3 separate regions of the Homo sapiens genome follow, and regions 2 and 3 are each linked to region 1. The links come from fine-mapping of genetic effects on gene expression. A gene starts in region 1. Each other region holds a variant in brackets. All regions are shown on one strand. Distances are from middle to middle. Region 1 holds the start of ZNF502 (zinc finger protein 502). Region 2 overlaps KIF15 (kinesin family member 15). Region 3 overlaps KIF15 (kinesin family member 15).

The links. PIP is the estimated chance that this variant, and not a neighbour inherited with it, causes the effect. A credible set is the group of variants that fine-mapping cannot tell apart.
Region 2: its variant is the best candidate, but not a certain one, in a credible set for the expression of ZNF502 in monocytes (Quach 2016, PIP 0.54).
Region 3: its variant is the best candidate, but not a certain one, in a credible set for the expression of ZNF502 in whole blood (INTERVAL, PIP 0.78).

Annotation. Positions count from the first base shown.
Region 1 is chr3:44,711,130-44,713,894 of GRCh38, reverse strand. It overlaps ZNF502 (zinc finger protein 502), which reads right to left and starts at 1,235. Exons shown (of 3, transcript NM_001134442.3): 1 at 1,155-1,235.
Region 2 is chr3:44,778,833-44,781,597 of GRCh38, reverse strand. KIF15 (kinesin family member 15) reads right to left here. Exons shown (of 35, transcript NM_020242.3): 5 at 676-713. Among named protein-coding and RNA genes, the nearest start is that of KIF15, 18 kb to the right of the region's middle. The variant AG/G (reference allele first, on the strand shown) is at 1,530.
Region 3 is chr3:44,820,001-44,822,765 of GRCh38, reverse strand. The region is part of intron 20 of KIF15 (kinesin family member 15); the gene reads right to left. Among named protein-coding and RNA genes, the nearest start is that of MIR564, 41 kb to the left of the region's middle. The variant C/T (reference allele first, on the strand shown) is at 1,398.

The DNA of each region.
Region 1 (2,765 bases):
TAAAAACTACACATAGGCCTGGCGCGGTGTTTCACGCCTATAATCCCAGAACTTTGGGAGGCCAAGGCGGGTGGATCACTTGAGGTTGGGAGTTCGCGACCAGCCTGACCAACACTGTGAAACCCCGTTTCTACTAAAAATACAAAATTAGCCAGGTGTGGTGGCGCATGCCTGTAATCCCAGCTACTCGGGAGGCTGAGGCAGGAGAATCGCTTGAACCCGGGAGGCAGAGGTTGTGGTGAGCCCAGATCACCCCGTTGCACTCCAGCCTGGGCAACAAGAGTGAAATCCCGTCTCAAAAAAAAAAACAAACCAAAAACCAAAAAACAAAACTGTACACGCAATACGCTGTTGTGAAGATTAAATCAATTAGCACAAATGCTTCAAATAGTGCCTGGTATACAGTAAGTGCTAAATAAATGTAGTTTAAAATATTACCACCAAAATCTGCTTATGCCCTTATCGTCCTAAACAAGACTGGAAGCATCTTTACATGTGGCAGTCTCCGATGTCACTCTTTTGTAGCCTAGCCACTAAATTCGGGGTAATGTTTGGCATATAATGGATAGTAATCCTTCATTGGGAGGCATTAAGGTTTGCATACATGCTATCACATACAAGCTGTCAACTGAGCTTTGTGAAGAAGCAAGGAACAGACTTCTAGACAGTACTTTAGAGATTTCTGTACCCTCCAGAATTGTAACTCAGGTCTCAAGACTCCCAACGAGTGCACTTTACGCTATTTGCCGTCTCCTATAAAAACAGGCTCTAAACAAGTTTCGGAGCTACAGGATCAGCCGGGGGAAGAAACTGGTATCTGATCCCCAGGACCTCGTTTCCTGACATGGGTCCTAGGTCTGTCTTGATCATCTATCCATCACTCATTCACTCATTCATTCATTCACTCCGCCATTTTCCTAGGCATCTCCTCTGTGCCGGGCACTGTGCTGGGCCTTGGAGTCTGCAGTGCTGAGGCTGCAGGCTGGGCGGGCCGAGCCGCTAGGAGTGCCCTACGTCCGGGCAGCACGCGTAGGCAGCAACGTGGAGAGGACCGAGGCCGGGGCTGACTTCCCAGATAACCCTCCAGCCCGCCGCCCCAGCAATGGCTCGCCGGGGTCCTCTCTTTTCCCCTCCCTGGGTCCCAACTCGCTCACTGTGAGATCCACGGACTCTCCGCGGAGCGGCGCAGGCGCTCCCAGAGGTGGACTGGGGCCAGGACACCAGCCTTAACTTCTGAAACCGGAAGAATGGTGGCGCGGCCGGTAGTGCGTCAGCAGCGAGCTCGCGCATCCATTCTCTGATTCTCTAGGAAGCGGGAGGAACATCTCTATGGGACCCTAGAAGAAGGCATTCCCTCCAAACCCAGCCTGTAACTCCAGCTTTGTTTCCCGCCAAGCCCAGCCTGTAACTCCAGCCTTGCTTCCCGTCAAGCCCAGTCGCGTTCCTGATATCCCATTAACAACTATCTTGGCCTGAAACACAGTGGCTACCTCAACCCTCAGGAAAACTGTAGAGGGAGACGTTAGGGATGGAAAGGATGCTGGGTAGGAGCCGGAATGGGCCATCTCAACAAGAAACTAGTATATTCTACCTGCTTAAAATAGTCTCTATTAAGAACCTTGAGTGATCCCCTGTTATGTTAGAATAAAGGACAAACTCCCAATCTAGGCCCACACAAACTGACCTCAATATCAACATCTCTTATTTGGCTATCATATACATTCTGCTCTAAAGTTACTGAATTCCCATTGGCCCCCTGAAATCCCTTGCCTCTTCCTGACTCTAGATCTTTTTCCCAGGATTTTCCCTTTGGAATACTCTCCCTTCCTTCTACCTGCTCTCCCTAACCTCAGCTATCCAATTTATCCTGGTTCTTCAAATCCCAATGCCAATTCTCACTTGACCACCTAGACTGTTGCCCTTATGGGTCTTTACACTCACATATCACTATTAGTTATTCTAGCTCTAGCTAGCCTTCTATTCAGTGCCCCCCTAAATGCATACACTTGTATTTCTTTCGTAGGTATTGTTAGGAAGATACACACAAGTAGCATCCCACCCAAGGACAACTGTGAAAGACCCAATCAGTTCATTTTTATACAACTCTAATCAGCTATATGGAGCTATTATTTATCATTATATCTCAATGTTTAGCACAATGATTGGTAGAGAAGGCATTCAATAAATACTTGTTGAATTCGTTAATCAGAAACAGGTGAAATTTAGATTATTGGCATTTTTGATAAACTGAAAAATGAGGATACCATAGATTAAATCCAGAAAGCAAGCTCTCTGCACATCTGAAAGGATGTACCACGTAGCTGGCATATTCCCGTTTCTTTGGCTCACTCTATCCAATTGTTATCTCCCTTGGTAGAATGTAAGCTGTATGAAGGCAGGGGCCTTCTCTGTTTCATTCATACTATATCCCTAGCACCTAGAGCATGGCTGACATACTAGGCATTCAATCAGTATTTGATGAATGACTAGGTCACCATCAACTTCCAACAAGTTACAGGAAATAGTTACTCCACATAGATGTATACTGCTTGTTTGAGAGCTAAAACTGCTGGAAAATTATCTTTCTTCCCCCAGATTACCTAAAGTGTACATTCCAGAGATGAATGTTGCTTCCCTGTGAGAAATAGAAACTCCTTCTAAATTATATTTACCTGACCCCCACCAAAAGAGATTATATGAAGGTATTTTCCATTCTGGGCGGCGGGGTCGGGGACGGGTTGAGAGGAGAGGGAAGGGGAAACCGG
Region 2 (2,765 bases), 68 kb before region 1:
ATATCCTATGATCCAGCAATTCTCCTGGATACATATCCAACATAAATTATTTGAAAAGACACAAGAAAGATGTTCACAGCAACATTATTCGTATGGTTGAAAAGTTGAAATAATCCAAATGTCTATCAACAGTAGACTGGAAAATGTGTAGTATATTCATACGATAATATATTATACAGTAATGGAAATAAACTACTACTACATGCAACAACATGAGTGAATCGCAGAAACTTAACACTAAAAGACATCAGAAACAAAAGATACACAACAAAATATTATTTGTAGAGGATCAAAAACAAGCAATATTAATGATGACAGAAATCAGAGTAATTGGCATTCCAGGGGACAGGGTTTGGTAGTTACTGACCAGGAATCTTGATCTGGTTAGTGGTTATACAGGTGTATAAACATATACGAATTCATTAAATCCTACTGAAAAACTGTTTATTCAGCACCACTCTGTGCCAGGCATTGAGCTGGAAACATAGCTGCAAACATGATTAACACATGGACTTTGCTAGCAAAGAACTCACAACTTGGCAGAAGCCTAGGGAATTTCCCTAATTTCAAGAGATCAACATCATATATAGAAATTATGCCTTTCCCCAAAATGTTGTAGGTTACTGTTATCACAGAAAGAGTAGATTAAGCCAACAAAAGTTAATCTTTACTTACCCATCATAGTAAATGTCTTCCCTGAGCCAGTCTGTCCACTGTAAAAAATGTTTTACATATTATTTTTACACATAAAATTAAAAGACTACTCCTCCTATTATAATACTAGTGTATAAGTTTTCTCCACAAAAAGTTAGCTTATTTTCTTTCTATTTTTAAATTCTATTAGATAAAAAGTGAATGATCTGCCTCCTTTCTCTCCAATCTCCCTACAAAGAGCTAACTGCTGTTAATTGGCAAATGCTTCTATATTACACAAACATAGCCATCAGAGTTTTCATTTAATTTTTATTTACCAAAATTGGGATGATGCTCTTCATACTGCTTTGCAACCTATTTTTCCCTTAATTTTACCTCAGATATCTTCCTAGGTCAGCAATAGAGGTCTGCCTCATTATTTTTAATAGCTACACAGTATTCCATGGTTTTGGGATCATATAGCATCTTGCAGCACCATAATTTATTTAACCAGAATCAAATGAACTTTTGTTTCCAATTTTTGCTATGCCAAGTAATACAGCATTTCCTTTCCTAAATTCTTTGTCTTTAAAAGATACTAAAATCTCTTCATTTAAATATAAAGCAATAAAAAAATTCTTATGCTATAGGTTTTTGTGCAATGTCATCTCTCCTGTTATCCCACTTAACAGAAACAAGAGTAACAAAAAACTAAAAGTAAAAACGTTGAAGCCAGGCAGTTCCAGCTACTGAGGAGGCTGAAGTAGAAAGATGGCTTGAGCCCAGGAGTTCCAGGCTGTGGTGCACTAGAATCACAGCTGTGGATAGCCACTGCACTCCAGGACTGGGCAACATAACAAGACTCCATCTCTTTTAAAAAAAAAAAAAAAAAAAAA[AG/G]TTGTATTTTAAAGATGTTAATCAAGATATCAAAAGACTTTAGCTTAGATTCACAGCAAAAACAGAAAATTTTGGATTTACTTTTTCATTAAATGCCCCCCAAAACTAGAAAACAGTATGCTATAGTTTTTTACCCCCTTCTTCTGGAAGAAAAGAGGGAAAAAAATTCTTTAGTAACTCAGAATGAGAAATGGATATTATTGAGTCCTCTACAAATAGGGTAATCCTTTTTTTTTTTTTTTTTTTCACTCTGTCACCCAGGCTGGAGTGCAGTGGCACGATCTCGGCTCACTGCAACCTCCACCCTCCGGGTTCAAATGATTCTCCTTCCTCAGCCTCCTGAGTAGCTGGGACTACAGGCATCTGCCACCACGCCCGGCTAATTTTTTGTATTTTTAGTAGAGATGGGGTTTCACCATCTTGGCCAGGCTGGTCTTGAACTCCTGACCTCGTGATCCACGCACCTCGGCCCCCCAAAGTGCTGGGATTACAGGTGTGAGCCACCGTGCCCAGCCACAAATAGGGTAATCCTATAGATTATTGTCCAAACAGGCACTTGAGAGTGAAGAGGACACTACTAATAATTACTTGACAATTGGTATTGTCCTCAGTAAACCAGACAGTATACCCACCCTGCCATGTATTACCTAGCTCTGTCTGCTGAGAAGGCCTAGAAGCAATGGCATTCCAATAGCAACAAACCAAACACACCTAGCGCCCAGATCTTGGTTTCTAAATACCATGCTCCAATAAAAGGAATTAGGGTTCATTGGTGAAATGGCTGATTCTAGGCGTAGGTCAGGGAAAACACAAGATGAGCCCAGAGCATCTTGTAGCATCATAAAGTAAGAAGGGGCTCAAAAAACAAAAGGATGAGCTATAGCAAAGGGACACAAAAACCAACCTCAAGGAGGGCCCATTGGGCAAAGCTGGAACAACAAGAACAACAAGGTAAATAATTTTTAGTACTGGATTATAACCTAAAGAATAAAATAAATGCATATCCATAACATATAAAGAATTGAATAAATGTGGAAAACAGACAAATCTTTCTTTTTTGTTTTGGTTTTTTTTTTTTTTTTTTTTTTGAGGCGGAGTCTCGCCCTGTCACCCAGGCTGGAGTGCAGTGGTGCAATCTCGGCTCACTGCAACCTCTGCCTCCTGGGTTCAAGTGATTCCTGCCTCAGCCTCCCAAGTAGCTGGGACTACAGGCGACCACTACCACATCCAGCTAT
Region 3 (2,765 bases), 110 kb before region 1:
GAGTGAAGATCAAATCAATGAAATAAAGCGAGAAGAGAAGTTTAGAGAAAAAAGAGTAAAAAGAAATGAACAAAGCCTCCAAGAAACATGGGACTATGTGAAAAGACCAAATCTACATTTGATTGGTGTACCTGAAAGTGATGGGGATAATGGAACCAAGTTGGAAAACACTCTTCAGGATATTATCCAGGAGAACTTCCCCAACCTAGCAAGGCAGGCCAACATTCAAATTCAGGAAAAACAGAGAATACCACAAATATACTCCTCGAGAAGAGCAACCCCAAGACACATAATTGTCAGATTCACCAAGGTTGAAATGAAGGAAAAAATGTTAAGGGCAGCCAGAGTGAAAGGTCGGGTTACCCACAAAGGGAAGCCCATCAGACTAACAGCGGATCTCTCAGCAGAAACTCTACAAGCCAGAAGAGAGTGGGGGGCAATATTCAACATTCTTAAATAAAGAATTTTCAACCCAGAATTTCATATCCAGCCAAACTAAGATTCATAAGTGAAGGAGAAATAAAATCCTTTACAGACAAGCAAATGCTGAGAGATTTTGTCACCATCAGGCCTGACTTACAAGAGCTCCTAAAGAAAGCACTAAAAATGGAAAGGAACAACCAGTACCAGCCACTGCAAAAACATGCCAAATTGTAAAGACCATCGACGCTAGGAAGAAACTGCATCGGTACTGCTGACATCTCAGCTCACTGCAACCTCCCTGCCTGATTCTCCTGCCTCAGCTTGCCGAGTGCCTGCAATTGCAGGCACGCACCGCCACGCCTGACTGGTTTTCGTATTTTTTTGGTGGAGACGGGGTTTCGCTGTGTTGGCCGGGCTGGTCTCCAGCTCCTAACCGCGAGTGATCCGCCAGCCTCGGCCTCCCGAGGTGCCGGGATTGCAGACGGAGTCTGGTTCACTCAATGCTCAATGTTGCCCAGGCTGGAGTGCAGTGGCGTGATCTCAGCTCGCTACAACCTCCACCTCCCAGCCGCCTGCCTTGGCCTCCCAAAGTGCCGAGACTGCAGCCTCTGCCCAGCCGCCACCCTGTCTGGGAAGTGAGGAGCGTCTCTGCCTGGCCGCCCATCATCTGGGACGTGAGGAGCCCCTCTGCCTGGCTGCCCAGTCTGGAAAGTGAGGAGCGCCTCTTCCCAGCCGCCATCCCATCTAGGAAGTGAGGAGCGCCTCTTCCCGGCCGCCATCCCATCTAGGAAGTGAGGAGCGTCTCTGCCCGGCCACTCATCGTCTGAGATGTGGGGAGCGCCTCTGCCCCGCCGCCCCGTCTGGGATGTGAGGAGTGCCTCTACCCGGCCGCAACCCCGTCTGGGAGGAGAGGAGCGTCTCTGCCCGACCGCCCCGTCTGAGAAGTGAGGAGCCCCTCCGCCCGGAAGCCGCCC[C/T]GTCTGAGAAGTGAGGAGCGTCACCGCCCCGCAGCCACCCCGTCCAGGAAGGAGGTGGGGGTCACCCACCGCCAGGCCAGCCGCCCCGTCCAGGAGGGAGGTGGGGGGGTCAGCCCTCCGCCCGGCCAGCCGCCCCGTCCGGGAGGTGAGGGGCGCCTCTGCCCAGCCGCCCCTACTGGGAAGTGAGGAGCCCCTCTGCCCGGCCAGCTGCCCCGTCCGGGAGGGAGGTGGGGGGGTCAGCCCCCCGCCCGGCCAGCCGCCCGGTCCGGGAGGGAGGTGGGGGGGGTCAGCCCGCCACCCGGCCTGCCGCCCCATCCGGGAGGGAGGTGGGGGGGTCAGCCCCCCCGCCCGGCCAGCCGCCCCGTCCGGGAGGGAGGTGGGGGGGTCAGCCCCCTGCCCGGCCAGCCACCCCGTCCGGGAGGTGAGGGGCGCCTCTGCCCGGCCGCCCCTACTGGGAGGTGAGGAGCCCCTCTGCCCGGCCACCACCCCGTCTGGGAGGTGTGCCCGGCAGCTCATTGAGAACGGGCCATGATGACAATGGCGGTTTTGTGGAGTAGAAAGTGGGGAGAGGTGGGGAAAAGAGTGAGAAATCGGATGGTTGCCGTGTTTGTGTAGTAGGAGGTAGACATGGGAGACTTTTCATTTTGTTCTGTACTAAGAAAAATTCTTCTGCCTTGGGATCTTGTTGATCTGTGACCTTACCCCCAACCCTGTGCTCTCTGAAACATGTGCTGTGTCCACTCAGGGTTAAATGGATTAAGGGCGGTGCAAGATGTGCTTTGTTAAACAGATGCTTGAAGGCAGCATGCTCGTTAAGAGTCATCACCACTCCCTAATCTCAAGTACCCAGGGACACAAACACTGCGGAAGGCCGCAGGGTCCTCCGCCTAGGAAAACCAGAGACCTTTGTTCACTTGTTTATCTGCTGACCTTCCCTCCACTATTGTCCTGTGACCCTGCCAAATCCCCCTCTGTGAGAAACACCCAAGAATGATCAATAAAAAATAAATAAAAGTTTAAAAAAAAAAAAGGAAAAAAAAAAGAAACTGCATCAACTAACGAGCAAAATAACCAGCTAACATCATAATGACAGGATCAAATTCACACATAACAATATTAACCTTAAATGTAAATGGGCTAAATGCCCCAATTAAAAGACACCAACTGGCAAATTGGATAGTCAAGACCCATTGGTGTGCTGTATTCAGGAGACCCATCTTACGTGCAGAGACACACATAGGTTCAAAATAAAGGGATGGAGGAAGATCTACCAAGCAAATGGAAAGCAAAAAAAACCAGCGATTGCAATCCTAGTCTCTGATAAAACAGACTTTAAACCAACAAAGATCAAAAGAGACAAAGAAGGCC